Homo sapiens: one gene and its partners. The protein of the gene in region 2 interacts with the protein of the main gene of each other region in a biochemical or structural test. Each region holds a gene or a part of one and is shown on either strand. Other genes may lie near its edges. The genes, in order: SYNJ2BP, ACVR2B, MSTN and FSTL1.

The links.
Region 1: the proteins of ACVR2B (region 2) and SYNJ2BP form a complex in vitro, tested with the Homo sapiens proteins (one study listed by BioGRID).
Region 3: the proteins of ACVR2B (region 2) and MSTN interact in a biophysical measurement, tested with the Homo sapiens proteins (one study listed by IntAct).
Region 4: the proteins of ACVR2B (region 2) and FSTL1 interact in a biophysical measurement, tested with the Homo sapiens proteins (one study listed by IntAct).

What each region holds. Positions count from the first base shown.
Region 1 is NC_000014.9:70,414,089-70,422,039, forward strand, and holds the start of SYNJ2BP (synaptojanin-2-binding protein), read right to left. Parts: upstream 3,003-7,951; 5' UTR 2,876-3,002; coding exon 2,812-2,875; intron 1-2,811. Other genes in the region: SYNJ2BP-COX16 protein, read right to left, coding at 2,812-2,875. UniProt on the Homo sapiens protein: Regulates endocytosis of activin type 2 receptor kinases through the Ral/RALBP1-dependent pathway and may be involved in suppression of activin-induced signal transduction.
Region 2 is NC_000003.12:38,456,875-38,463,895, reverse strand, and holds part of ACVR2B (activin receptor type-2B precursor), read right to left. Parts: intron 4,466-7,021; exon of another isoform or gene 4,322-4,465; coding exon of another isoform or gene 4,207-4,321; intron 1-4,206. UniProt on the Homo sapiens protein: Transmembrane serine/threonine kinase activin type-2 receptor forming an activin receptor complex with activin type-1 serine/threonine kinase receptors (ACVR1, ACVR1B or ACVR1c).
Region 3 is NC_000002.12:190,059,718-190,067,342, forward strand, and holds the start of MSTN (growth/differentiation factor 8 preproprotein), read right to left. Parts: upstream 3,013-7,625; 5' UTR 2,880-3,012; coding exon 2,507-2,879; intron 719-2,506; coding exon 345-718; intron 1-344. UniProt on the Homo sapiens protein: Acts specifically as a negative regulator of skeletal muscle growth.
Region 4 is NC_000003.12:120,447,988-120,455,626, forward strand, and holds the start of FSTL1 (follistatin-related protein 1 precursor), read right to left. Parts: upstream 3,006-7,639; 5' UTR 2,910-3,005; intron 2,760-2,909; coding exon 2,697-2,759; intron 2,668-2,696; exon of another isoform or gene 1-2,667.

The DNA of each region.
Region 1 (7,951 bases), on a different chromosome or scaffold from region 2:
TGATGATACCATGAAGAAAAGCTGAATTAGACCCTGAGAAGAAGAGTATCACATACTAGGAAACCAGTTCTGGTAAGTGATTAACATGAACTTGAAACCTTTCTTTGTTAACTGAACCAACCAAATTTCAAATGACTGTTTTCACCCAAGTTCATTCCTAAACTTGAGGCTTTACTCTCCCAGTAAGTTCACTGACTTATATAATTAATACATGGAAATGCTTATGAAAATTTAGGAAGCCACTGAGTGAATAAATACATTCATTTGTAATAAATATGTGATACAGAAATCAAACCATTTTTGGGTGAAATATATTAGCTAGATATAATTATTCCCTTTAATTAGTCCTTGAAGCTTGTCCGAATGCCAATGTTTTGGGAAAATACTAACACTAGGAAATTTATGACTACAAATGCCAAAAAAGATGAAGTGATATTATACTGAATTTTAAAAAGATTTCATCTTTAGAACAAGAGATAATATCAGGGTCCTGCTCTGCTTTAGACAGGAGATCTGAAAATACTTTGGATGCCAGAGCAAAAGGACTATGTCAAAGTACATTAAATTCTTAAGCAAAAGGCAAGAATCAAATCTCAAACATCTCAAGAGGTAGTAAAATAACCGAAGATATTTAGGATAAAGAAGAAAGAGGCAAAACAGGAGCAGAACAACTAGAGCCTTTAAATAAATACTTGCACAGCAATCAGAAAAGGAACTAGCATTGTTTTAATTGGTCCTAAGAGAACAAGTTATCAATGGATGAAAAGTACAAAAAAACAGATTTTGATTGAAAAGTAACTTTCTATGTTAGCCTCAAAAGTCAATAAATATTAACAGTGAGTGAAGGATACATTTATATAAAATAGCAAAAAAATGAATCCAAGAAACTTGGGCATACCAAATGAGCCTTTGACAAAAGTTTAGGCGCACATATGGAGCATGACACTAATCCATTAAGATTAGTGATAGGCCAGGCATGATGGCTCATGACTGTAATCCCAGCACTTTGGAAGGCCAAGGCAGGAGGACTGCCTGAGTTCAGGAGTTCAAGACCAGCCTGGGCAACAAAGTGAGACCTCGTCTCTAAAAAAAAAAAAATATTAATAATGGTATTAGTGATGAGTTATATTCCGATAAGTAAAACCAACTTCCAATTTTTAATAATAGAAAGGAAGGCAGGGCACAGTGGCTCACACCCGTAATCCCAGCACTTTGGGAGGCAGAGGTGGGTGGATCATTTAAACTCAGGAGTTTAAATGAGACCAGCCTGGGCAACGTAGTGAAACATCGTCTCTACCAAAAATACAAAAAAATTAGCCGGGCGTGGCAGTGCACACCCATGGTATCGGTTACTCAGGAGGCTGAGGTGGGAGGATTGCTTGAGCCTAAGAGGGAGAGGCTGCAGTGGGCTGAGATCGTGCCACTGCACTCTAGCCTGGGCAACAGAGTGAGACCCTGTCTCAAAAAAAAAAAAAAGAAAAGAAAAAGAAAGAAAGAAAAGAAAAGAAGACACAAAGTATGGATAATTCTGAAAGTTATATTTTATAAAGAATAATCTATCCATGATTAAGCTACTGCAGAACTGCAGATGAGAAAAGGTGATGGACTGTCCTAGGTAGTGGCAAGGGAAACAGGAGTGAAAGAATTTCAGGAACATTTCAGAGATGGAGCTCAGAGTACTTGATGATTTATTAGAGACTCTTGGAATACAGTATTAGTAGGATTTACTGTGTCAGTTTAGCTATTTATCCATTAACAGTAACAATAGTAGGAAACACATACTGTTTACCATAGGTCAAGCAATGTTGTAAACATTTTACATGGATTAACTCATTTCATTCTCACAACACTATGAAGTATATTTATAACCATCCCCATTTTAGAGATGATAAACTAAGGCTTACATCAGTTAAGTTAGCCAATAAGTATCAAGAATCAGTAAGAGGTTAGATACAAGATTTAGACCCAGATACTGTAATTCCAAAGCTAAAGAGCTCTTAATTGATCAACTAAATAGTTGTAAAGGAAAGTAAACAAAGTCGAAAGCAGGCAGAATGTAGTAATGTCAAGAGCCCGGTTTAATGAAGAGCCACAGTGGGGGAAGAGGATAGCAGTTTGGCTGCTCAAAATCACATGAGGTGTTCATAAAAAATAAATAAATAAATAAAATAAATCTGTATTAAATCCAAATCCCTGCAGATGGGAGATAAGATTTAACTTTTTATTTTCTTTTTTTTTTTTTTTTTTAAAGCCCTGGGTAATTTTGTGGCGGAACCAAGTTTGGGAACCTGTGTAATAAAAGATTTCTAAGGGCTCTTCCTGCTTTAACATTCTAGTTGACATTGTAAATGAAGTTCCCAGAAATCAAAGGAGCGAGGGAGGGATCCTAGCTGCAGGAAAACGGCTATGCATTCAGAGTCCACACCGTTTATGCTCCCATTTTACTAAACGGTCCCTCATAGGGGGAGGGATAGAACAGGCAACGGAAAGAAGGATGTGGTATCCACGATAAGCAGGCTAAAAAAGCAGGCTTTTAAAAAGGCTTTTCTAGCACGATTTGCACAAAGAACCCCTTCTTGACTATATATATTTGTGTTCATCCAACTGGATTTTGAGGTGGATTCCTCAGACCCGTATCTGGCTAATGATGGATTTCAATATATTTTCTCTAAGCACCCCGAAGCGTTGCACGAAACCTCTAGGTTGTGGCCTGCCCGCCCCGAGGCCAGGTGAATCCGGCTCAGCAGCAGAGGTGTCTGCAATTACACCCTCTAATCCCCTACTGTCAGATATGACCCTTTCCGCACATACCTGAGGGCCCTCTGGTAAGATTGATCTCTTCCTCAGTGACCAAATAATCCACTCTTCCGTTCATGTTTTACAGCTCGTCTGGCTTCCTACTTGGGTCAGCTGGAGTGCAGCACAGGTGAAGGTGAATCAATCTCGGCGCTGCGCCCACAGCACAGCGGTTTCGGTTTCAGCAGCCTCGAGACCCGGAAAAGGAAGCCCGAAGGACTCGGAGCACTGGGAATGCTGGGAATCGTGGTTCCTACCGCCAATGGATTGCAGTTTCTCACCGGTTCCCAAAGCCAAGCATGAGGTGAGCAAGGGGCAAGTTACCATTCTAATTTGCCATTGGAAGCAAGTGGGAAGGGGGTGGCTAGTAAAAGTAAGGGACCTAAATAAATTGATATTGTCGAGAAAAAAAATTTTAAAAAAATCTCCTGCCATCCTAGAAAATCTCCACAAATGTAGAAAAGAAAAAAAAGGTGTATTATTCTGTAAGCATCGAACCAGACCGGAATGGGTGTTACAGGCAATCCACTAATGAGATTGCAAAGAGAGACAAAAATCTCACATTTTATGTAGCCAAAGCACACGCATCTTCTCATGTAAGACGAGTTAACATGGTTTGGTATTCAATTTTTGGTAGTTCACCGTTGGAGTGGCCGCCTGTGTTGGTTAATTGCCTTTATCCAAAGGAAAAATAAAACGTTATCTCTGTGACAAACAGGTACTTACGGCTTGGAGCAAGGCGCTTCGGGTAACTCCCGCGAGCCTGGAACATAGGGGCACTGTCTACCTTGATACTTAAATTTCAAGGAGTTGGCTCCCGGGACCTGACGAAAACAATTCCTGGGTTTTATCTGACAAGAGGCTTATTTAGCTTTTAAAAAGATACACACACACACACACACTACACACGGATTATAATTACAATTTGCTCAAGAAAATGTTTTAAGAAAGGGGGGTGGGGGAATGTCTCATTCTTTTGGCAACTGGGAAAATTCAATCTTTTTAATGTTTTAACTCTTACAATAAGGTTAACGCATGGCTTAGGTATAACTTTAGGCCAGTCTTCCTGACTTTTGGAATGAGACATTCCAAACTGAACTTGAATGAAACTTCAGGGGTCAAAAACACAAAAGCCTAAAGAGCCAGGAAGGTGACAACCTTGTGAAGCAACCTGGAGTTAGACCACAGGGATTGGTGGGGATCTTAGAGGACTAGAAAGTGCAAGGCCAATGTAAAGACATTTAAATTTAGAGTAAAAAACCAAAGCAGCAGCTACTATGTTTACCAAACAGAAGGAGATAGGGGCAGATTCGGCAGGAAGACCTCTTATTTGCTCACTCTGAGAGAAGTTAAGATGGAATAGTGGAGGCTGAGCACAGTGGCTCACGCCTGTAATCCCAGCACTTTGGGAGGCCGAGGCGGGTGGATCACCTGAGGTCAGAAGTTCAAGACCAGCCTGGTCAACATGGTGAAACCCTGTCTCCACTAAATATACAAAAAATTAGCTCGGTGTGGTTGCAGGTACCTATAATCCCAGCTACTCGGGGGGCTGAGGCAGAAGAATCGCTTGAACCCGGGAGGCGGAGGTTGCAGTGAGCCGAGATTGCACCATTGCACTCCAGCCTGGGCAACAAGAGCGAAACTTTGTCTCAAAAAAAAAAGATGGGATAGTGGAAATAACACAGATTATGACTTACAACTTGGGCTCAAGTTTCCATTCCATTCCCTTAAACTTGTCTGTCTTTGAGCAAGGAATCCAACATCTCTGAACTCTGTTTCCCCATCTTAAAATGGGATTGATAGTAGCTCTTCATATGTTGGTTGGATGAGTGAATAAAATGATCATTATAAAAGGCAGAGAATGATAAATTAAAAAAATGTGTAATATAAATAAATGACATTGGGGGCTGGGCGGGGTGGCTCACACCTGTAATCCCAGCACTTTGGGAGGCCAAGGTGGGCAGATCACTTGAGGTCAGGAGTTCCAGAGCAGCCTGGCCAACATGGTGAAACCCCATCTCTACTAAAAATACAAAAAAATTAGCTGGGCGTGGTGGCGCAGGCCTGTAGTCCCAGCTACATGGGAGGCTGAGGCAGGAGAATCACTTGAACCCAGGAGGCGGAGGTTGCAGTGAGTGGAGATCGTGCCACTGCACTCTACGCTGGGTGACGGAGCAAGACTCCATCTCAAAAAATAAATAGATAAAATAAAATAAATGACATTGGAATGTCAAGAGAGAAAAGATCAAATAGAAATGGGGGGAAAATCAAGAAATCATCAATGAGGAGATTTGTAAGGAAAAAAACACAAGGTTTCTTTTAGACCACTGTGGGGACGGTGGTGGGGGAATCACCTCTCAGTACCTGGGAAAATTGTCCTTTTCATCTGAACACACAGCTTCAAAAGAAATACATAGGGCAGTGAAAGAAAAAAGTATCCTAAACAAGTTGAGGAAATGCTGGTAATAAGTAGAGTGAGAGATGGGATATGTAAATTGCCTTTATTCCCTAATAGAAGTATAGGAATAATGGTGTCAGAGGCTTTTGAACTGGAGCGACTCCATCTTGAATAGGGGCTGGGTAAAATAAGGCTGAGACCTACTGGGCTGCATCCCCAGGAAGTTAGGCATTCTAAGTCACAGGATGAGATAGGTCAGCACAAGGTACAGGTCACAAAGACCTTGCTGATAAAAGAATGTGGTAAAAAAGCCAGCCAAAACCCACTAAAATCAACGTGGTGATTAAAGTGACCTCTGGTCATCCTCACTGCTCATGATATGCTAATTATAATGCATTAGCATGCTAAAAGACACTCCTGCCAGCGCCATGACAGTTTACAAATGCCATGGCAACATCAGGAAGTTACCCTATATGGTCTGAAAAGGGAAGGAACCCTCAGTTCCAGGAATAGCCCACCAATTTCCCCTAAAACTCATGAATAATCCACCCCTTGTTTAGCATATAATCAAGAAAAAACCATAAAAATAGCCAACCAGCAGCCCTCGGGGCTGCTCTGCCTATGGAGCAGCCATTCTTTATTCCTTTACTTTCTTCATAAACTTGCTTTCACTTTACTCTATGGACTTGCCCCAAATTCTTTCTTGCACAAGGTTGAAGAACCCTCTGTTGGGGTCTGGATCAGGACCCCTTTCCAGTAACAATGGAAGAACAAGGAAGCTAGCTGGGCGTGGTGATATGCCTGTAGTCCCAGTTACTCTAGAGGCTGAGGCGGGAGGATCATTAGAGCTCAGGGGTTTGAGGCTGCAGTGAGGTGTGATTGAAGCACTGCACTCTAGCCTGGGTAACAGAGCAAGACCCCATCTCTACTAAAAAATAATAAAAGTAAATAAATTAAAAAAAAAAATGAGGGAGCTTTAATATGTAGGAAAGCAAATGACAGAGAAAATGAGATCCTACTCAGAGGAAACAATTGAGAAAAATTATGGAATCAGGCCGGGTGCAGTGGCTCACCCCTGGAGTGTAGACTTTACTTCGTGGTCCAAGATGCTTAAGATGGATTTTGGAACTTCAACCATCATATCTACATTCCAGGAAGGTAATGAAGGAAGGGCAAAGAAGACCTCCTGGAAATGTCATAGACTTCTTGTAATCTCAGGGATAGAAATGTGCCAACCATAAAAATCAAGGTTATTATTATTAACTGAAAGTGGGAGAATGGATATTGGGAGGCCACTGGCAGTCTCTGACACAAGAAGTGACACTTTCTGTCTGAACTAACCTTTCTGCTTATGACCTTGAGTTATGTAAAAAATGTAGAATGTAGTGGAAACTTCAATCTACCATTTACAAAATTAGTGGAAACCTTGCCTCACCTTAATCACACCTTGCTCTATTTTTGCACATTTCCTGTCATATATTCACTTTGTCTTTTTAATCTCTCTTGTCTGCTTCAGTCCCCTCCTACTTCAGTATTTTATTCTATCAGCCTCTTTGATGACCAACTCATGAATATGTTTGTATTTGGGACTTATCCACCTCTCCTTTGACATAGCATTTGTTCCAACTTTTTGCCCTTACCTATTTAGTTTCAAATTCCTGCATATTTTATTTTTTCTATGCTTCCTTAGGTGACAAAACTCTTTTGTGATTGACACACTTTTTTCTTTGTTGTATTATTATTACATTTAATCAGACGATATTAGTTTGTTAATGTTACTGTAACTAATACTACAGATTGTGTAATTTGAACAATGAAAATGTATTTTTTCACAGCTGTGGAGTCTGGAAGTCCAAGATCAGGGTGCAGGTAGAGTTGGTTTCCTCAGAGGCTTCTTTCCTTGGCTTGCAGATGGCCATATCTTCTACCTCTGTCTTCACATGGTCTTTCCTCTGTGTGCACACATGTCTGTTTCCAAATTTCCTCTTCTTATAAGGACATCGTTCATATTAGATTAGGGCCCACCGTAATGACCACATTTTAACTTACTTACCTCTTTAAAGACCTTTTCTCCAAATATGGTTACATTCTGAGGTACTTCAGCAGATGAATTTTGCAGGCATACAACACAGCCCATAACACAGATTACAGTGAAGTCACAGCCTTTGGCATTGCATATCTCTGCTCTGGCCCATTACTTGTTGATTTTAAAGTTTAGACCTGATAGCAGTATTATTGCTTTAATTTTCAAGTTCTTGCTGCAAGTTGCACTGCTGACCCCAGCTATTGATGACAGCAGATAGCCACAAGGCATTTACAATTATTTTATCTTCTATTGTCCTTTTTGATTGGTACTCTTTATTCTTCTGTATATATATGCTATCTTTATAAGAAGTCTAATTCAGACCCCTGGCTCTAATGCCATTAATATGCCAGCTGTCATGTCTCTTCACTGAGCTTCAGTCTTGTGTAACCCAGTTGCCTACCTAACATCTCAAAATTTAGATGCCTAGCAGGCATCTTAAATTATGATAAAATGAGAATTTCTAACCCTTATACCCCTAAACTGATACCTCTCTTAGCTGTTCCCCTTCCTTGAGTAACTCAGTTTACTCAGTTCATATGAATATCTTAAGAACAGCTTTTGATTCCATTCTTTCCCTTGCATTCTACATTCAACCCATCAAAAGTATAGCTGTTGCTATGTATGAAATACAGTCTATCTGACCATCTCTGATACTACCAGCTTATTACAAA
Region 2 (7,021 bases):
AGAGAGAAGAATCACTGGAAACGAATCCTGACAGCACCTTCATCTTTAACTTCCAGTCCCCAGAATTGTAAGAAAAGAAATTTCAGTTGTTTAAGCCACCCAATCTATGGTATTCCATTATGGCAACCTGAGCAGACTAAGACACAAACAGCGCACATCATATGTATAATGTGGGAAAGCTGATTGGAGTATCATTTGTACTAGAAACAGTTCCACAAACTTGAGTGTCATCTAAATCCATTAGCAGGGCCTGACAAGTGGACTTACATAAAGAATCCCAACATAACAGTAAAGAGTAGGCAGCAAGCTGAAGAACAAGACTGGGAAGCAACAGCTTTGGTGAACAAGTCATCCCAAACTATCTTCCCTAAGTCTTCTGCCAACTGTGGCAGAGACTTATACAGGGAACAAGGCATACACTCAGCCAGGAACAGAAACTCACCAGAGCTCCTTCTGTCATGAAAAGCTTCTCACCAGACTCTAAAATAGTTTTTCTACAGGTTTCTCCAATACCCCCAACGTCATTATCACGACATATGAAATCAGAATTTGTCACACTCAGATTTTGTCAAATGCAGTGGGCTTGCCAGTAGTGCTGTTACCCAGAGCTCTTCAGCGACCTTCAACAAGTGCCTTAGTCTCTTCAGAGTCTGCACGCAGCATAGAGCCTGGTAAGTGAACATACATATGCACTTCCATCCCAAACCCAGACCAGCACATCCTGGCTAGTCCAGTGCTACCTCCCTCATCAGCACAGTACCCAGGAGACTCAGGCACAAGGTAGGAGACACAGGCACGAGAGGTTATCTCCAGGTCTCCTCATACATTAAGCCAGTGGAAGTGAGCCCTTCCCATGTCCGCGCACCCTTCATGAAACCAGGCTATTTCTAAACTCTGTAACCTAGCATTTCAGCAGGGGTTGGGGTGTGGAGGTAGGAAGGATGTTCACAGATTACCGCAGAGAGCCAACTGCCATATCACCCAGCTTCTACCCTCACTGCCATCACTTGGGTAGCCTCAAAAAATAAATAAATAAAATGGTATAACCATTTTTCAGTATCTATTAAAACCAATAACATACGTGCTTATGATCCAGATGTTATTTTCTCATCTACTCTTGAGAAACAGTCTGCATACATTCTATACAATCACAAAGTCCATCAGTAAGAAACTAGGTAAAATGTAGTCTATATTTAAACTTTAGAATATTACGTAGTTATTAAAAAGATCAAAGTAGATCCATATGTATCAGAAAGTTTGCCAAAGCAAATCTCCGAGTTTAAAAAGCCATGACATCCAACATAGCTTAAAGTCACAAACATGGTGAGGAAAAGATGGACACAAAGCAGTTTATTCTGTAAGGTTCTATTCATATGAAGCACAGAAACAGATGAAACTATTTTATGCTGTTAGAAGTTAGAATAGTAGTTAACCTTAGTGGGTGTGGGCAGAGACTGAAATGGAACAAAACAGGGCTTGCTGGGGATGGGGGGCTGGAAAATTTCTGATTCTTGACTTGGATGCTGACTAAACCAGTGTATTCAATTTGTGAAAATGCTTCTTAGCTGTTACTTATGGTAATTACTTGTACATTCTTCTGTATATGTTTTATACTTCAATTAAATGCTTGAATACCATTTTAGGTGGAAAAAAGCCTATTTATTTATTTATTTATTTGTTTGTTTATTTATTTATTTATTTTGAGATGGAGTCTCGCTCTGTTGCCCAGGCTGGAGTGCAGTGGTGCTATCTTGGCTCACTGCAAGCTCCGCCTCCCGGGTTCACGCCATTCTCCTGCCTCAGCCTCTTGAGTAGCTGGGACTACAGGGACCCACCACCACGCCGGGCTAATTTTTTGTATTTTTAGTAGAGACGGGGTTTCTCCATGTTGGTCAGGCTGGTCTTGAACTCCTGACCTCAGGTGATCCGCCCACCTTGGCCTCCCAAAGTGCTGGGATTACAGGCATGAGCCACCACGCCCGGCCAAAAGCCTCTCTATTTCTATAAGTATTTCTATAGATGCACAAGTAAAAATGTCTGGAAGAATACATCTCAATCTTAAAAGGATTACCTTTGGAGGGGGCCTCGGATGGGGAACAGAAGTGATAAAAGGAGACCCTAGTATTATCTGTAACATCTAAATTTCTGCAATATAATGTAGGTATATTACTTGTTTAAAAAGTAATAAATTTTTTTTAAATGGGAAAATTAGTTATGGGGGAAGTGACTTCTACTCCCCCAACTATACCCCAGGGTGGCTAACCTCTCAGTGATGGGAGGTTTGGATGCGAGGTTTCAGGGCAGGGGAGATAGGACTACATTGCCCTGGCCCTCCTTCTACTCCCACACAGCCCTGTAGGTCTCACCCTCAGCCAGAAGGTTCACAGAAGGAGCCAGCCAGGTGGGAAAAGAAACCAGAATTCATCTCTCTAACCCTTCTGCTCCTCTGGTTTCTAAGGCCCAGAGCAGATGAGCCTTGATTCACTATGCCCTCACTACACAGAGAAGCGGGACCTCTTGTGTGAGCCCTGGGCCACAGGACTCCCCTCTAACCCAATATCAAACCTCAGTGAGAAGGAAATTCCCAAAAAGTGCATAAAATAAGAGTTCTTAAACCATGGTTGCCAGCCCAGGCTGGGAAAACTCATGCATGCTTTCTAAATCAACGGACACATAATCCAGTTGGAGGGGAGGGGGAGGAGGGTTGTCAATGGCACTGGACATTCATTAAAAGGCATTGTCCTCATACCTGAAAACACTGTGCGCCACTGCACAAGCCAGAAGGAAAAAATATCCTGGCATCAACACTCGAGAGAGTCAGCTTCCAAGTTAGTCTCCTGTTTTAATTGGTTCAAGTCTGGGAGGCCACAGGGACCCCTCCTTCTCCTCAGATGGACGGATAACAGCTGGTCTCATCCCATCCTCCGAAATGCTCAGGCACAAACCTGGGAAGCAGCCTCCTCCATTCTCCAGCCAAGGGCTTGGGTTTCCAACCAGCCTTCCTTTTCCTTCTCCAGAACTAATTTTAGCCTCCTTGGTTGTCAGAGTGGAACTGAAATAGTCGGCAGAGGAACACATGCAAAGAGCATGAGCTCGCCTCACAAAACACCTCAGCTCCAGCCCAGAAACTGGCCAGGGAGAAGGCCCATTGTCCAGCAGGTCAGACCCATCCAGACAACATTCCCCTGGGAAGAGGGCCTCACATTTGCCCAGTGGGACAGGCTTCCTTTCCACACCCGCTTCCAGAGGTCATGCGTCCATGAATGAAAACACCCAGTTGGAGCTGCCAGTCCCAGAAAGAATCTGAAAAAGGCACATGCATGTGTACAGCAAGCCTAGAATAACCAGGGGAAAGCATGGGGCTGTCCGAAGGCGGGAAGCCATTATTGGTCCTGGGCCGGGAAGAGACATGGCTGACCCTTGAACAATCCCAGCCTGCTTTATCCATTGATTTCCAGTACCTACCACTGCCTTAGTCAGAGACATCACTGAGCAATGTAATAGAGTCAGAAGAAGGCAGCAGCATTTCCACCACCAGAAAACCTGGGCATTCAGTAGCAGTACCCCCAGGACCACAAGGAATAGGCACCTCTAGGGCTGGGATGGACCCGTAAGTCTGGTAGAGAATGAGAGACCAAAAAAGAAAGCCCAGAACAAGGGGGTGGGTGTCTGTTTTGGAACACAGAATTAGTGATAGAACCGGAGGGAAGGAAGAGAAAGAATTCTGAGAAGGAAATAAAGTCCCCTTTGTAAAGACCCCAAAAACAGATGGAACTAGGAAGTCTGAACCTCAGCAAGCACTTCACATACCAGTGATGTGGAGCACTTGGAAACTGGGTCTTTGAAAAATGCTTCCTCCACCCTAAGAGTCCAGTTTGTAATCACTTCCCAGTGCAGCAAACTGTGTCTCACTGAGTTCAAGATGAGACAGACAGAGTCCCACAGAAGCGTTCCCTAGCCAAGCTTGAAGCAGGCCAGGGGAGGAGTAGAAAATAAACATGGGGGCAGCCACAGGGGGCTGCCAGCCTGCCAAGCCCAATAGACAAGCCTCCACAGATACCAACCGCTCCACCAGGGCCTCCAGTGTCGGCTGCCTGTCTAAGGCAGCGCTGCCCACACCTCCCCAGGTCCACAGCAGGAAGCCTGGCCCTGCCCTCAGATTCCCATCTGGCCACCACACCCTGAGGGAGAGACTTGCACCCATACCTTTGGGGAGAGGCTGCCCACCTGCCCTGGTGTCCCCGGCCTGGGGGCTCCAGGCCCACAGCCTCTGCGGCTCCCCGGAGCGCCACATGGCAGGTCCACTCAGGGGAAGGGGCATGCCCACGGCCTGCTACAACCCCAGTGCTCCGCTTGGCAGACAGGGCTAGCCTTAGCTCCTGAGGCCCCCAGGTGAGCAGAGAGGGGCTGCTGGGCAGGCAGAGAGTCCCCAGCAACAGGCACTTCCTGGCATTTCTGCGTGTACGGGAGGAAGAGGCTGAGTGCCAGCCTTAAGGCAACGGTCAGAGGCGAGTGGGCGGGTGCGGGCAGGCAGGCTGCCCAGCCACCCACAGCCTCCGCCTCCCTGAAACCTGAACCACTTCTGGGAAAACTCAAGGACGCCAGGATTCTCCTCGGTGGTAAGCTGTACACCAGAACCACTAATTTTGAACCAAACTCTCACGTGCTGAGCAGATTTCACTAAGCAGGAATCTCCTAGGCTTTGAGGAGAACCTCACCTCCAACCCTGCATCCAGAGTGGGGGGATGGATATGCACTCAAAAGCCGTTACCCCTACTTCTTACAACTGTAGACCTCTTTGAAAGCGTGAGAACATTCTAGATCAGTGGTTCCCAATCTGAGATGATTTTGCTCTCACCTCTGCCAGGGACATTTAGCAAGATCTGGAAACATTTTTGGTTGACATGATTAAAGAGGATCTACTGGAATTTGTGGGTAGAGGCGGGGATACTGCTAAATATCCTACAATGCACAGAACAGCTCAACCCACCACTACCCATACACAACAGAGTATCATCAGGCCCAAAATGTAATAGTGTCAAGGTTGAGAAACCCTGTTCTACAGTGAGGCCCATGCAACCAGGACCCTGCCTCAGGACTATCTAGAGTCTATCTACAGTCACTAGCAAAAATATTATCCAGACCCAGTCCTCAACCCTCCAGATCCCAATCCATGGTGACAGGTCAGTATCCGTGAGTGGATCTAAACTCCTGAACCGATACTCCTTGGTTCTCATTTGCACTACCCTGAGCTCCCAAGCAGAGGGGCTGAATGCATAGGCTGGCACTCAAGAGGACAGCTTTCTGGAAAGAGAGACCAGGGCTAGAATCTGAACATCCGGCAGGATCACAAAAGGCAAAGTAAGTGAGGTACCAAGGTGGAAAAAGCACCCCTCCCCCGCAGAACAAGCTGCCCCTTAAGACTACTACAGTGGATATGTGCAGGGCAGCCAGGACTTCAAGGAGTCTAATCAGGGGGCAGTAGGTTCCCAGTATCTGTACAAAACAGAGTGGGTGCATACAATGTACACACACATGCACACATATACCGATTTACATTTTCCTGGAGGAAGGGTCCACAGCTTTCATCAGATTCTCAGAGGGGTCTATGACATGGAGGACCACTGTATAGAATGTGGGCTCTTCATTGGCTCCTTATAACAGGAGTTCCTTAGGTGAAGTGCCAGCAGAGGTCCAGGTGCTTCTGGAGATTCTTGATGCCCAGAAAGACCCACAGAGTAGTACACAGTAGAGGCCCACCCAAGTGATGGGAGGCCATAGGGTTTAGATCTTATGTTTTTACCCAGCTATAGGGCCTGGAAAGATGGGCAGGTTTCTCACATCATCTGCCTTGAAAGGGCCCCTAAGAGCTAGGGAGGATACCCATTCCTCCCAAAAGGCAGCCCACCCAGACAGGGCAGAGCCTCGAGTGCCCAGCAGATACAAGGACAGGTAGCAGAAAACACTCTTCTCTGGGAGGGGCACCCACGGCCCATGGCTCTGTAGCCCATGTCCTTGGCAGCTACCGCTACACTAGGCCTGAGGGATGAAAGTCACTTCACTTCATGAGCTCACTCCCTCCGCCCTCCCCCAAGGAAGTGGCCAAGAAACTTCTTTGGGTCAGCCTATCAGAGTAATCAGGGCCTGCACTTCCTGATGGGATAGACAGGAGGCAGGTCCCTCTCCAAGAGCTCTGGTCACTTCACTTAGAATACTGTTTACCCCACCCCCATAAGCCCTTTGATCTGAACCCCAAGTACAGAGTACAGAGACAGGTGTCAGGAGTTCTTGTAGGATACAGCATTGAGTGTCCAGGATGTCCACTGAAATGCAAGAGCCAAATGGCTTGTTTCCCAAGGACACTCGGCCAAGCACAGACCACAAAAGACTTGAAGAATTATTAAAGAACCAACTAACCACTGACTGATCTTGTGACAAGCACCATGTGACATTTATTACACCATAAATTCTACCTTCCCTTCTGAGATTCCATTGTCTAATATGGTAGCCACTAACCAAATGTTCTGCAGAGCACTGGAAATGTGGAAAGTTAGAGTTGAGGATGTTCTGTAAGGCACACACTGGATTTTGATGACAGTACAAAAATGGAATGCAAAATGTCTCGTTTTAATACTGATCTCAGGCTGAAATTACTTTGTATATATCAAATTCAGTGAAATATACTTTTTTTTTGAGACGGAGCCTCACTCTGTCACCAGGCTGCAGTGCAGTGACATGATCTCGGCTCACTGCAACCTCTACCTCCCGGGTTCATGCCATTCCCCTGCCTCAGCCTCTGGCGCAGCTGGGACTACAGGCGTGTGCCACCACACCCAGCTAATTTTTGTATTTTTAGTAGAGACGCATTTCACCACGTTGGCCAGGATGGTCTCGATCTCTTGACCTCGTGATCCTCCCACCTCAGCCTCCCAAAGTGCTGGGATTACTGGCATGAGCCACTGTGCCAGGCCAGTAAAATATACTATTGAAGTTCATTCCATCTCATGGAAAGAATGTGTCC
Region 3 (7,625 bases), on a different chromosome or scaffold from region 2:
AATCCACTATATAGAGTTAATATTTTAATACATACAGTCATGTATCATATTAATGAAAAGCACTTTATATTTCATTCCCAATTCAAAAGGACTTCTTAAGAAGTTAAGAAGTATGGTATAATTGTTTTCTAAAATCTTGATGCAAAGTAAGAGTATCAAGGGAGTGTTTCATAGGATATGAAATTGGACACCTACTTTTATTGGGTACAGGGCTACCGTTGGGGTAAGATACCTTTGTCTAGCTTATGAGCTTAGGGAATTTGTAGCTATTTTCCACTATTGTTTGTTCATATTATGAATAAAAACATAAGGTTATTATAATGTTATTTTCAGTTATCACTTACCAGCCCATCTTCTCCTGGTCCTGGGAAGGTTACAGCAAGATCATGACCATTCTCATCTAAAGCTTTTATTTCAATGCCTAAGTTGGATTCAGGTTGTTTGAGCCAATTTTGCAACACTGTCTTCACATCAATGCTCTGCCAAATACCAGTGCCTGGGTTCATGTCAAGTTTCAGAGATCGGATTCCAGTATACCTTGTACCGTCTTTCATAGGTTTGATGAGTCTCAGGATTTGCACAAACACTGTTGTAGGAGTCTCGACGGGTCTCAAATATATCCATAGTTGGGCCTTTACTACTTTATTGTATTGTATTTTAGAGCTAAATTTAAAGAAGCAACATTTGGGTTTTCCATCCACTTGCATTAGAAAATCAGCTATAAATGAATAAGAAAAGAAAAGTTGCTGAAATTATTTCCCATTAACAAAACCCCTCCATATTAATAGTTGAGCATTTTTTTAAATTAAGATAATGTATGCCTATGCAGTCTTTTAAAATGAAATACCGTGTGGAACTTTATAACTCAAAAAAATGTCAAAGAAAATAATTACCCTAGCTTTTCAGAATTTTTCAGACGTATGTATTTTCAGCTGTTCATCAGGAATCTATTCCCCTTCCAGAGAACTATGGACAAAGGAAGGTTCTATGAAGTAATGAACGCTGAATGAAATTTTAAAATGATGATGATTAGAGAGAACAAGAGACACTGTGGAGGAACAACCACTTAGAATTCTTTGGGAATCTGAGTAGTTACACTTACTGAGCAGCTGTACCAATCAGTCTGGAAGAAGGAACCCTTCCCCCAGGCCTGAATTACCTGGGGACAAGACACACTGAGCAACTTACTGAGCCTCAGGAATTAGTAGAAAACACAGTACATCTGTTACATTTTGGCTTTGGAATAACCTTTTAAAGGAGCAAAACTAAGCAGATAATTAACACAAAAATTTTGATGTTATATTCAGGCTATCTGAAAAGTTCGAAAGTATTGTCTTTAGGGCCAGGCTGTCATGTAAGCACAAGCACTAACAATTTCTTTTATTTTGGTTTTCCAAAATTGTCTATAAAAGGTAAATCTGCTCCAGACCTATTTGATAGCAGAGTCTTAAATGGAAATTCTTTGCTGCATTGTAACCTGATTACTTAATAAGGGAAATAATATTTTAAAACTGTTTGGAGTCTTGTTTAAAGTATATAAAGCATTGTATTAAAGCAAGATAACAGGTAACACAAAATTTTTCTTGCCATGCCTTCTCTGTCAAGGTGCCTGTTTCTCTTTCCTGGAGAAAGTATTCTTTTGAGCTGACTGCAAAAGGAATTGTATGAAATATGTTATCTGTCAGAAGCAGTGTAGATACTACAGGTAAAAGCCCTCCCTCTCAGGAAGAATAAAATATTTTAGAAGGTTATTAAGCACTGTGCCTGCTTGGAAGTACACAAACTGGGTACTCTCAATAATAGTACTATGGTCAAGGTACAAGGAGGACTTTGTGAGCCATAACCTACCCAATTAAAATGTTTATTTCTTAGGCATTTTCTAATATTTAGTTCATGATGATTATTATGCTATGTTTACTTCATTATTGTTCTTACTAACACATTAAGATATTTAATTTTTGCATATTCTTCAGTGTAATAGCTCTCAAAATTAAATTTTTAACTGTGAAGAACAAAAAAATTACTGAGAGAGTTTCAAATAACAGAAATCACTTGAGGTTTTCAGCAGTGCTCAAGTAAGCTTAAACATCCAGCAAGTTTCTTTTTTTTTTTCTGTTATTAGTGAAAAAAACTTATTTTACACAACTAAATACAATTCTAAAATCTAATGTAAGTTTTAAACACTGCTTGTAGTATCTCCCAGTCCTTGCCTTGGTGGTATTATTGTGAAAGCATAAGCATGCTATCTATATTTGCCTTATTAAATTAATGCTATGCAAGTACTTTATTTTTTAGTTTTTTGTCTCTATAAGAAAACAAATAATGCAGCAGATTTTTGTCTCATTAATATATTCTCATGCAATCTTGAAAAAGAGAAACTCTTTTCCTTTCTACTTACATACAGGCCAACAGCTTGTTTAAAAGAGCCTGAAAATAGATCTGTTTCTCATAAACACTAGAACAACAGTCAGCAGAACTGTTGATATACACTAATAGGACTACTTACACTCTGTAGGCATGGTAATGATTGTTTCCGTTGTAGCGTGATAATCGTCATCTTCCAAAGAGCCATCGCTGCTGTCATCCCTCTGGACATCATACTGATCAATCAGTTCCCGGAGTGGAGGAGCTTTGGGTAAAAGTTGTCTTATAACATCTTTGCTGATGTTAGGAGCTGTTTCCAGACGAAGTTTACTGAGGATTTGTATCTTAATGGCTTCTATTCTTGAAGATTTAGTGTTTTGTCTCCAAGTACATGCATTACACAGCCCCTCTTTTTCCACATTTTCTTTTTGCTCACTGTTCTCATTTAGATCCACTGGACCAGCAACAATCAGCATAAACAGGTAAATATAAACACAGAGTTGCAGTTTTTGCATGATTTTAAAATCAATATAATCTTTTTTCTTGTTCTTGTTTCTTCCTTTTACTTTTCTTTTGCTTTTGAGTAATGCCAAGCAAAATTTTAATGCATGTACAGTCTGAGAGACAACTTGCCACACCAGTGAATCTTTTATACTGTATTCCAAGTGGCTTTTTATATTCCAACTTAGATGAGACAAGTGTCGTCAGGATCTATGATTGGCTCTTGCTCCACAATGAATCTCGCTGTCAGAGGTTAAAACCCTGTCTGTCCCAAGTCACCAAGCAGTATTTTGTTACAGTCAAGGGTGAGCTGATTCATTTGACTACTTCATAAAAGAAATAAATCTACAAATAATAAAAGATATTTGTGACATTTGAAAAACAAAAGTCTATGTTGGCAATAATATAAACTGTACTTAAATCTTACTAATCCTCACACAACTCTTATTGTAATTTAAATAAGTCAATTTTAATTTATACTACATATTTAAAATATGAAATATTACTTCCTCAAAAACTAAAATGATTTTATATTGTTTAGGCAAGTATTTGAAGTAGAAAATATTTTTATTTGTTGTATTAAATTATTTTTAGTGCCAAGTAATTAGGAAAATAAAAATTAGGAAGACCTGAATTAAAAGTTAAGATTATGATACTAGTTGAGAATTTTCATCTATAATTTGAGAAACTTGTTTTCTGACTAAATTCTTAGTAAATATTGGAAGTCATTGTTATTATAACATATTGTGCATGGAATTATTTTTACATAGTTTCATGTCTTTTATTAATATGAAAATTATACTGAACTTTTGACTGAGTGCTATTATTTCCTATTCTAAAGATGCAGATTAACATAACTCAGAAGATGTGTTTTTCATTGTTTATTACCAAGAGGGTAATGCCAGCTAGTAGAAAAATCTCTGAACATAGACTAAGATAATGAATTTTATAACTGGCATGGCAGAGATTATTACAGTTTGCCTCAGATTTCCAGCAGTAAATATCCAGAGAGTAAAAAGTGCAGTATCTATTCTCTATAAATTATATCAGAATATTATGAGCACATAAAAGAGAAAGAGCATCATGATAAAGGGGTGACCTTTTGTTGTTTCCCAATACTGCGATATGTTTGCACCCCTTTGCCAATTTCTCATTTTGACCAGAGGGCAGACACCTGGCAGGGATTTGGGGTAAAGTCTGGGAGCAGAGAATAGAGCTTTTTGTTCTCTAAATTTAAGTGGCCTCTGTAGGGATCAAACGTTCAACCTTAGCTTTGGGAGCCACAAGATCTAGTCAAATGAACTATTAAAGAGCTAAGCAAACATAGCCAGCAAGAAACAGAAGATATTTCTAGGCCAAAGGAGATTTCTTTTTCCTACTCCTTTTTGGGAAGCTAAGGATTCCTAAGAGATTTAGTCCATTACTTTTTTTTTCCAAGAGAATACAGTGGCTCATATCAAATATTTATTTTTAAAGTCACTACCATTTTTGCACACTGTACACTAATTTACTGCCTCGGTGCACTAAAATGCAACTCAGTAGCCTGAAAAGTTAATGCATTTTCATCAAATTCTTAAGAGGTATCTACATCTCTTGAGAAAAAAATGGCCTTACATAATGCATTGGATTTGCTCATCATTAAAGATTAAGGAAAACCAGACACAAACCAGATGCCCTGAGGATTTCAGATACTCTTTGTTATGGGACAATATTAGATCTGGCTTCTAAGGTTTTATTTGTTTGGTAAATTCATTTTTCAATGTGTAAATCTTTCAAATGTTATGATCATTGTAACACATGCATCTATACAGTTCCAAGTAAGTCAAACTTTTTTTTTAATATGCTTAGAATTGTATAGCAGTTGAATTGAGAACTCAGGCTCTGGAGTCAGATAGACCTGAGTTCAAATCTCAACTTTGCCACTTCTAACTATGTGATAATGGATGAGATACTTAACTTCCCTAAACTTTAGCTTCCTCATAGGGTTTTGGGGGGATATAATTTAATAATGCATGTAAATTGCTGAATATGGCACCTGTCATATAGTAAGTAATTGATAACTGGCATTTGAGTGCTTGCTCTTTGTTTTATGCAGAAGGGTTTGAGATTATGCTTAAAATTATGCTCCACATGAACTAGAACTGCTTCAGGTCATAGCTGCCAATTATCAGTCACAAAGCCTACTTTCTAGGCCTGTGAGGCAAGTAAAATTTTCTAAGGCAGCCAGGTTACAAGACATGTTCCAGCTCTTTATTCTTATCACCTGGAAAAAAGTGAACAAAGGTTGTCATTTCCGCTAACAGACAATTCTTATTATTCATGATTTCTGTATTCACAAATTTGCCTACTTGCTAAAATTTATCTATGAAACTCAATATTCCTAGCATTTTTCAGTCATTCGCTGGCATTCACAGAGCGGCAAAAAATTTGAGTCCTATCTGACGCACAGGTTCCCAGATGAGGTCAAACAAGGCAGGGTTCCGCCTTTTTGTTTCAGCTCTCATACTATAAACAAATTCCCTTTTTCCCGTCTATTTAGTGCCATGTTTTCACATATTTTGTGCTTCTTTTTTTATTGCTCCTCTTATTGATTTTGCTTTTTAAAAATGGCCCCCAAGCATAGTGCTGACGTGCTGCGTGGTGTTCCTATGTTCCTAATCACAGGAAAGCTGCAATGGAAAGTAGCATGGTGGTTGCCAGGGACTGGGTGAGGCACTGAGGGGTAGTTACTGTGTGATAGATACAGAGTTTCAGTCTGGGAAGATGAAAAATTTCTGAAGATGAATGGTGGTGATGGTTACACAACAGTGTGAATGTGCTTAATGCCACCGAACTGTACACCTAAAAATGGTTAAGATGCTAAATGTTGTGTATATTTACCACAATTTTAAAAGGCTGTGATATGCCTAAGGGAAAAAAGTTCTCATGAAAAAATGCATGTGCTAGATAAGCATCATTCAGGCCTGAGTTATAGTGCTGCTGGCTGTGAGTTCAGTGTTAATGAATGAACAATATATATTAAATAATGTATTTGTAAACAAAAACATACATAAAACAAGGTTATATATTGATTGGGTGATGTAAATGTTATGACCAGAGGCTCAACTAACCCTGTTTTTCCCCTGGGAACAATAGTTCAATATTTGCTAACTCAGTGTTGGCAATGACTTTATAGAACATAACTACTATGAATAGGGAGAATTGACTATATCTAATCAACTTCTCTAGAGAACAGTATTGAATGGGTGAAGAAGAACTGAAGAAATTTAAGTAAGTTTTATTCCTTCTCCAGTGGCAGTGATTGCAACCTTCCTGAGGCCCCAGAATAGAAGGGCTCACCAGCTATAGGAAACTTCAATGTAGTCTGACTGCTGGAGACCCAGTTCTGGCAGTTCTTATCACCAAGGAGACAGGACAGTACTGCATCATTAGGGTGAGTGGGTAGAGAAGAATTCCTCCTAGTTAACTGGGAGAGCTGCGTCTATCAGCTTGTTGGTTTTGTCTTAAGTTAGCCATCTCTAAAAGCAGCTTCTCACAGGAGTCAGAATTTAGGTAGTTAAGGCAGTATCTCACAAGACTGGTATGGTTCGTCTTTGTACTAGGTAGACTGTTGTGGGCCTCACATTTTCTGTAACCGTCAGTAAGGTGGCAAGCGAAACTCTCTCATCTCTGTTACAAATACTCACTGGTTGTCTCAAAACAATGTTGAGGGTATAAACAATATTTTCCAAAAAAAAATTACGGTTTTATTTTTCCAGTGTGAGATCTACTGAGTGTACTAATGTAAAGACTTGCCGGAAGTTTAATGATCATGGCCAAGAAAAGGAGGACGATGAGATTAGGAATTAGCACAAGAATGAATCATGAAAAATTCAACAGTTTTGGGCAAAAACTCAGAAAGTTTTATCTGATACCTCTTGTCATTAACTTGTGTTTACAGCTGTTTGGTATTACTTTATGCTGATTATTCTTAGAGCCAGAAAAAATCTGCATAGTACTCAACTCACTTAACATCATGAGAAGATAATCATCCCACATTGATGATAACTGATTACCCATGCTTTTGATAGTTAGAAGACAAAAATTAACAAAAACAAAAAATATTCTTAAGCTAGGTAGCATGAATATGGGAATAGAAGGCAGGAGACCCAAAATATAGTTCTGGCTTTACTGTTGATGTTTTATGTAACCTTGAATAAGTCAGTTAGCAAACCCTTCATTTATAAATGTATGTATGTGTGAATTCATGTATTAGTTTATGAAATATTTGAATGCCTATTTTGTACCTGGCACTATGCTAGATTCTGAGGATAAAACAGCGAGCCAGACAGACACAATCACTGTCTTCAGGAAACCTATGGACTAGTTTCTTCATATGAAATATGAATAAATTTGATTAGGTGTGCCCTTTCCATTGAGGTTTATCCCCTAAAGCAGTGATTCTCAAAATTTTGGGTCTCAGGATTTGTTTATACTCTCAAAAACTATTTAGAATCCCCCAAATCTTTTTTTGTGTCAGTTATATCATTAATATTTAACACATATATATTAAAACAAATTGTCATGTGCAGGCATATTCAAGCATGCATTTTATTTGCTGACAGAGTCATGATGTCTTCATACATTATGGGGCCTCTGGAAAACTATTGTACACATAAGAAAGAATGAGTGTGAGAAAGGCAAAAAACATCTTAGTATTATTATGAAAACAGTTTTTATTTCATAGACTCTCTGGAAGAGACTTGGGAAGCACCCCAGTG
Region 4 (7,639 bases), about 82 Mb from region 2:
CCAAATGGGATTGACATAGACTGGCATTAATACTGATGACAATCACCTTTTCCCAAGTGGAGAGCACCTCTGATTCTGGTTTACTACAGAGGCTCTGGCTTCTTCAAATATCAACATGATTTGTAAAGTGATTAAATTGTTTAAAAATATGCTGAATTAAATATTTATGGTCGCAGAAAAGCAGAAAGCACCAAGAAGCCTCAATTTATTTTCTAAATTTCATTTCTAAAAAGTTCAACAATATTTGTACAATTTTAGCGATTTGAAGTTTACTAAAATAGATTGTCACTAAGGACTGTAAATATCATGATGTGACCATTTTTGCAGACTGTCCTTAGAGTTAACAAGGAAGAAATTTAAACAGCAAGCACCATTAACTACAAGATAAAAGGCTTTTAAAAAATCCAAATTACAATTCCCATAGGGAGAGGGTTAATGTACCTCTTCATCAATTGTTAAAGGTATATTATTATTAAATGGATTAAAAACTTGCCAAATCTTACTTGGCCAGGCACCAGGAGGTTGGAATAATTAAAAGATAATAATCCTTAATAACCTGGAGCCATGAAATGTAACCTAGCTCATACCTACCCCTCACTCTTTTCATTGTAACCATTTCCATACACTGTGAGTTCACAGCCTCTTTTCTCCCCCAACGCACTCTGTTTTCACATCTCAGTACTTCTCTATTTTGCCTTCTTCCCTGTAGTTTGCCTGGGAATTATGTGAGAGCACTGGATGCTCTTCTACCTCCAGCAGGAAATTGCTGCTGGGGGAACTTCCTACCAGGGATAAGTTTTCCCTGTGTGGAAGGGGGTTGGGAGGGGTGTGTGTCTTGCAGGCCGCCTAGAATAGATTCCAGACCTTGGGCCACACAGCCTGGTAAGTCAACCAACAGCCTCCTCACACCTCATATTTGCATTCCAGTTCACTGAGTGATTTCACACACTGGCTGGCAATTCTTGAGCCTGCTGGAAAACCAACCAGGGATTCACCTCATCCATCACTGGTCTGCAACTGCCTTTTGAGGGCCACAGCAGGGGATGGAGAAATGTTTCTTAACCAGGGCTACATCAGCCAGTGAAGGGGGATACGCTCTCAAATGCAAACCCTGGAAAACCAGATGGATAAGAAGCAGACCTGGAGTTCAAGATGGGCTCCAAAGGTAAGAGAGGTAGGTTCAGATCCTGCTTCAGAGCTAACTAGTTGTATGACCCTGGGCAAGTTACCTAATCTCCTTAAACCTGTTTCTTCCTCTGTAAAATCGGGATAATAAAACCTACATTACAGGGTTTGGGAGCTTTAAAAGAAGTAACTGCAGGTAACGTACACAGCCCAGTGTGTGGTAAACAAAAATGTACTTGGTAAATGTTAAACCATTGTGCTTGGAAGTGGTGTGGGTTAATGGTCAAGAGCCTTGGGTCCGGAGCCAGACTGTTTGGGTTCAAATCCCACCCTTAGCATTTAATAGCTGAGAGCATTGGGTAACCTTCGCTGACTCAATTTATCTGTCATTAAAATGGAATTTTATTACAACATAGCAGATATTTAATAAATATTAGCTACTTTTATTTCATTGGCAGTAAAAACAGTTGATTGAGTTTCCACCTCAATCAACAACGTAGTAGTGAATTAAATGAGAATTCAGTACAATGCGTATTTTTTAAAAATTGTGAAGACCTTGTATGCATTTATGACTTTTTTGGGCAGAGTCAAGCTGCGATGCTAAGGGTGTGGTTAAACTGTAATATGAAGGAAAAAATTCAAACAGGGAGCATAAACCACCCACCAGGGAGCTATTTCTTTTGTAATGTGCATTCCATTTCTTCTCCCTCATGCTTTTTAATTCCTTCCATATTTCCTGCCATAATTATCAAATGTTTAGTTTCTGACCTCACTTTCCTGGAGACTGGAGCCCGGGGAATTTAGAATTGTTTATTTTCTGTCCATAAACCTTTGAGTTAATGGAGCGGCTTCTGAGCAAAGAGTTTGTTGGTTTGTTTGTAGTGTCTCAGGAAGGTCGTTAGAGTTGAAAAAATTGGTACAAAAAAACAAGCGCTGAAATGCTTTAACTGGAAACTCGAGCCCCCAAAGAGCAGAGCAATGGATCTTCTCTTACACTTGCGCAACGTTACAGGGAACACTTGGGAAAAGGCCGTTACATTGCCCAGATGATAACACAAAACCCGAGGACACTTCACAAAGAAGAAAATACATTTCAGAGAATCATGATCTCACTTTAAAAGAGAGAAAGGAAAATTAATTTTGCCCCAAAAGAAGAATCCCGATTCCTCTGCCCCCGCCCCCAGGAGACAGACTTGGGAGGGAAAAGTCCCCAACTACTCTCAGTCTCCTCTGAAGTGAAGGACGGAACTGAGGCGCCTTTTTGAACTCGCTGCTGCTCCAGTCGCCGCCTCGTCCCCGTCGGCCCAGCCCGTCCCCTCTCCTCCTCCCCGCTCTCCCTCCATGTTAGCCGCGGCGGGGCTCCCGCTTACGGCCCGAACTACTTTTCCTGCTTTAAAGATTTAAGTTTCGTAAGCAGCATTACTGCCCCAGCTCCACCCCAGCACACCCCAAGGACCGAAACTCCCAGCGCCACCCCGGGAGAGCATCCCCAGGACGCGCGCCCACCCGCCCAGCGCGCAGACCCAAGAGGCCCCGGGGACCGAGTTCGGACTCCTCGGCCCCTCGCCTACCTCGGCGCGGACCCAGGCGACCGCCACCAGCGCGAGCGCGAGCGCGAGCCAGCGTTTCCACATCTGCGGAAGAGAGAAGAGAGCGAGTCTGAAGGCGCCGGGCCCCGCGCTGACCTGGGAAACTTGCTCGGGTCCCGCAGGCTCGCTCCGGCCGCCCAAGCACCCCCGGCCGCCCGAAGAGTCCGGCCTCCGCGCCGTGCGCCCTGCGCTCACCGTGGTCTGGTCCAGGTCTCCTGGGGGCGCGGGGCAGGACGGCGGCAGCGAGCTGTAAGCGGAGGTGGGAGCTCCGCCGATCGCCAGCCTCGGAGGAAATGCGACCTCCCCTCGCCGCCCCTTAAGACCTCTCCTTCCCCGCCTGCCTGCCCCCCCAGCTCCTCCCCATTCTCCTCCCCCTTCTGCTGCAGCGGCCCCCGCGGCTCCCGCTCCCCCTCCTTCCGACCCCTGCTCCGGGGAGCCCGCGGGAGTCCTGGCGCCGCCGAACCCCTCTCTCCGCACGGTCCCTCGTCCGGCGCCCCTTCGGCCCCCTGGACGTGGAGCGGAGGCAGAGGGGGTGTCCCGTGGGTCCCTGCCACAAAGGGGTAGGGGGAAGGGAAACCCCACCCCGGGAGGGGCTGCTGGCTGGCGGCGGCCCGGGCGGGCTGCGGCGGTGGCCAGGTGGGCGGTGCCGTGGGGGGCCCGGGAAGGTCCGGGACTGGAACCTGGAGGAAAAGACGTCCCGCGGCCTAGGAAGCGGAGCCGCCCCCCATGGCTGAAGGGGGAGGCCCAGGGAGGCAGAGGAGACCCCGCATCCCGGGGTCACGGCAGCAGGGCAGCGGGGCACCGGGAAGTGGGCGCAGGGCCGGGAAGACCGGCCGGCGTGGGGAAGGCTGCTGTGGGTTCTACAGTGCATTGTCCCGGGTGAGGTGGCGGCCGCCCTGCTCTGCTGGGAAGATCCTGAGTCCAGCGTTTGCCGGCAGCCTCATCCCCTCCTTCCCTCGGGCCGGGGAGCGGTGTCCCCCTCCTCTCTTCCGCCCACTCACTCATCACCTGTGTCCCTCCTCCCATCCCTGTCATCCCAAGTAGCCTCTGTGTTCAGGATTGCCATCTTCACCACCTTCTTCCCAGCCCTTGGCCTTCGAAAGTGTGCTACCTCTTTGACAGGGTTAACTCCCTAAAATGCTCCTAATTAAGGCGCCTTTCCTGCCATAACTAGTAAGGAGAGCAGATCCACTTAGCAACTCAGATTTCACATGCCCAAGACTAAGCCTCACTTCCCCCAGCTTCAGGGCCTGCTTATCTACCTCTTTCAGGGTGGTTGCCTTCAAACCTATCTCCTTTTCTCAGAGCCGGCTTGTACCCATAGCCTGGCAGTTTAGCCGCTGAGATCTCATATGCATCCCCTCGCCTCCGTTCACATGTCCACTTTCCTAGGCCAGACCTTCATCCTCCCTCACTCAGAAATTCTGGAAACCTCCTTTCGTTGTCCTCTGACTCCAGGCTCTCCCCTGTAGTCTCCACTGCAATCCATTGTCATATTCTTTCCCTTATTTTAAACATTGTCTTCCTCGTGTTCATGTTCTTCCTCTACTCAGAAACTTCAGCGTTCTTCTACCCACATCAAATCCAAACTCTGCCTTTCTTATAAGCCCTGCATTACTGGGCCCACCCTGTCCATCTAACTTCTCTTCAACTACATCAGCATACTTCCTCCGCTCAAAGCAGGCCCATCTCCTCGTTGTCCTCTGAACTTGTCATACTCACTCTGCTGCCAAGGTTTGTTGAGTGCCCACTGTTGTGGCTTTAGGGGGCTTCAAGATAATACCCATGGTCCCCATGTAAGTTCAGAATCCACTGAGATAGCAACAGGAGTCAGACTTATGGAGAGCAAAATGTCAGCTTTGTCTCTGCTAAAGGCTGGAATGGCAGCCATGGCTTTAGATCTGCAGGGACAGCGGGCCCAGAATTGAACATGTCCACTCAGTCACAAGCAGAGCTGGAAAACCTGCCTGTGTAAAAACTAAACTGCATGGAAAAGCAGAAAATATGTGCCTCCTGGGACATGCCTGCTCCCCAAACTTGAGGGGGTAGAGTGACACATCCCCAGTTCTTTCAAACTCTCCAGTCAGACAACTTACTCCTGCTCCCTTGTTATGGTAATAAGATTAGGGAATAGATGTTCCGCACCAGATACTCTGTCTTGGTCACTGTGCAAGGATTGAAGGGAACTATTGTGGATAAAGTTCTGCCCTCGAATAACGCACAATACATTGCATCCCTTGCAGATCCACTGCACCCTCTCAGAATCTGGTATCATCTTTCCTCCCTTCCTCTTATCTACTAAAATGCTTGGGTTTGTTTGTTTGTTTTGTTTTCAGGAACCACGTCAAGTTTGCTTCCTTCATATCTTTTCTGACAACAGCTTGGCATGGTAGAAGGCACAGGAGGTTTGAGGTCAAACCAATCTGGCTTTCCATCCTATCACTGCCATTTACTAGCTGCATGGCCTGACTTGCATCAAATAATAAGCCCTCTGAACCTAGGTTTCTGCCTCTGACAAATGGCAGTGATAATGCCTTGCAGGGAGTTGTGAAATTTAAGCAGATGCATATAAAAAGTGCCTGGCAGGTAGTAGACCTCTGTATGTGATAGCCATTATTATTTCATGATCGGCTTTGCATCTAAATTGTAGTTGGTACTATACACCAGGTACTATGAAAGCCATTCAACATCTCTTATTTTATTTAATTTTCACAATAGATAGAAAGGAGGCTGGGCACGGTGGCCCATGCCTTGTAATCCCAGCACTTTGGGAGGCCAAGGCAGGCGGATCACTTGAGGCCGGGAGTTCGAGACCAGCTTAGCCAACATGATTAAACCCCGTCTCCACTAAAAATACAAAAATTAGATGGGTATGGTGGTGGGCACCTGTGGTGCCAGCTACTTGGGAGGCTGAGGCACCAGAATTGCTTGAACCCGGGAGGCAGAAGTTGCAGTGAGCCGAGATTGTGCCACTGCACTCCTGCCTGGGCAATAGAGAGAGACTCCATCTCAAAAAAATAATAACAATAAAAAATAAAAATTTAAAAAATACAGTAAATGGAAAGGTCTTTTTTATTGCTTCCGTTTTCCAAATAAAACTGAAGCTCAGGAAGATTTAGATACTTTCCCAAGTTTATACTGTTGGCTACACAGCCTTACAACTTGGGGCATTATATTGCAGACTGCTATACAATGTTTAACACTTGTTCTCATAGTTATTCTTGATTCTCCAGCTAGTTTTAAGTTGCTTAGAGCAAAAACAATGTTTTTCATATCTTTATCCTCTCTACATTTGGAACACAATTAATGGATTTGAGTATATCAAAATGAAATGAAAGATTCCTGTTCAACTGAGGGCACCATAGACAAAATGATAGAAGGAGATATAAATGTCTAAAACTGACATGTAACTCATAACACACACACATACACACACCCTGCAAATCAATCAGAAAAAGAAAACCCAATAAAAAAGGGCAATAGGTATGAATAGGCAATTCCCAAAAGGGGAACCCCAAATGGACAATAAATATAGAAAAGATACTCAACATCACTACTATTATTTAAATTGCACAACAACCATTTGAAATCAGTATTATTTTATTATCTCCAATATACAGATGAAGAAACACACACAGAGTTTAAGTAGTTTGTCCAAAGTTATACAGTAAATTATAAATGTCACTTTACACTCATCACAGTGGCAAAAATCAGACAGTTGGACAATATCAGTGTTAGCATGTGACTAGTGCAATCTTTGTGGTGTACTGTAGCAATTAAAAGCATGGGTTTATGAGACAGACTGCCTTGGTACAAAATTGCCTTGGTAGTAAATCTTAGCTTTACTACTTATTATGTAACCTTGGGCAAGTTACTTAACCCCTTGCATCTCAGTTGCCTCATCTGTAAAATCGTGATAATTGTACTGATTTCATAGAGCTATTGTGTAGATTAAATGTATCAATATGTAAAGTACTTAGAATAGTGTCTGGTACACAGTAAGCATATAAATAAGATGTATTACTACGGAAATAATTCACTAGAGAGCTCTTACAGGTACTGATGATAAAACTGTGCTGTGGCGTATGGTTAACTCTACAATAAATAAAGCAAAAGACAAAAATAAACTATGCAGTGGAGAAAATATTTTGAAATGAGATATTTGGAAATGTCTTATCATTAGGCTATTTTGTTATCCAAAACAATAAAAGTGTGGCACCATAAAAACTCTCGTGTATGCACATTTTAAAAACTTACACAAAATTTTCTAACCTGTTTAAAAATCTTCAGACAGAATTCCAGTGGCTTATTTACTCATTTGTTGAAAATATAAAAATATAATAACTTGGGACCAGCATGGTGGCTCACACCTGTAATCCCAGCACTTTTGGAGGCTGAGGTGGGATGATCACTTGAGCCCAGGGGTTCGAGACTAGCCTGGGCAAATGTGGCAAAACCCCGTCTCTATAAAAAATATAAAAATCAGCTGGGTGTTGTGGCATACCCCTGTATTCCCAGTTACGGGGGGAGTAGGGGGCCAAGGTGGGAAGATCACTTGATCCTGGGAGGTGGAGGCTGCAGTGACCCATGATTGCACCACTTTACTCCAACCTCCGTGACAGAGAGAGACCCTGCCTCAAAACAGACAAACAAACAAAAACTAACCAACCAGCCAAACAAACAAAAAACCTTTCAATTAATTTTGATTTCCAGAGCAGATGGGAATTTATGAGCCAAATTTCAACAAAAAAACCTTCGCATGAATGGTTTATAGGACTGGAAAATGAGTAATTTGGTGGGTGAGCCAATGGTACACATCTTCCATCCAGATCTGTAGAGTGTCTTAATGTCACGATATTCAGTACACATTGATTCCTTTCGCATCCAGCTTGCTTTCGCCATGCTTCAGGTAACAATACCCACCT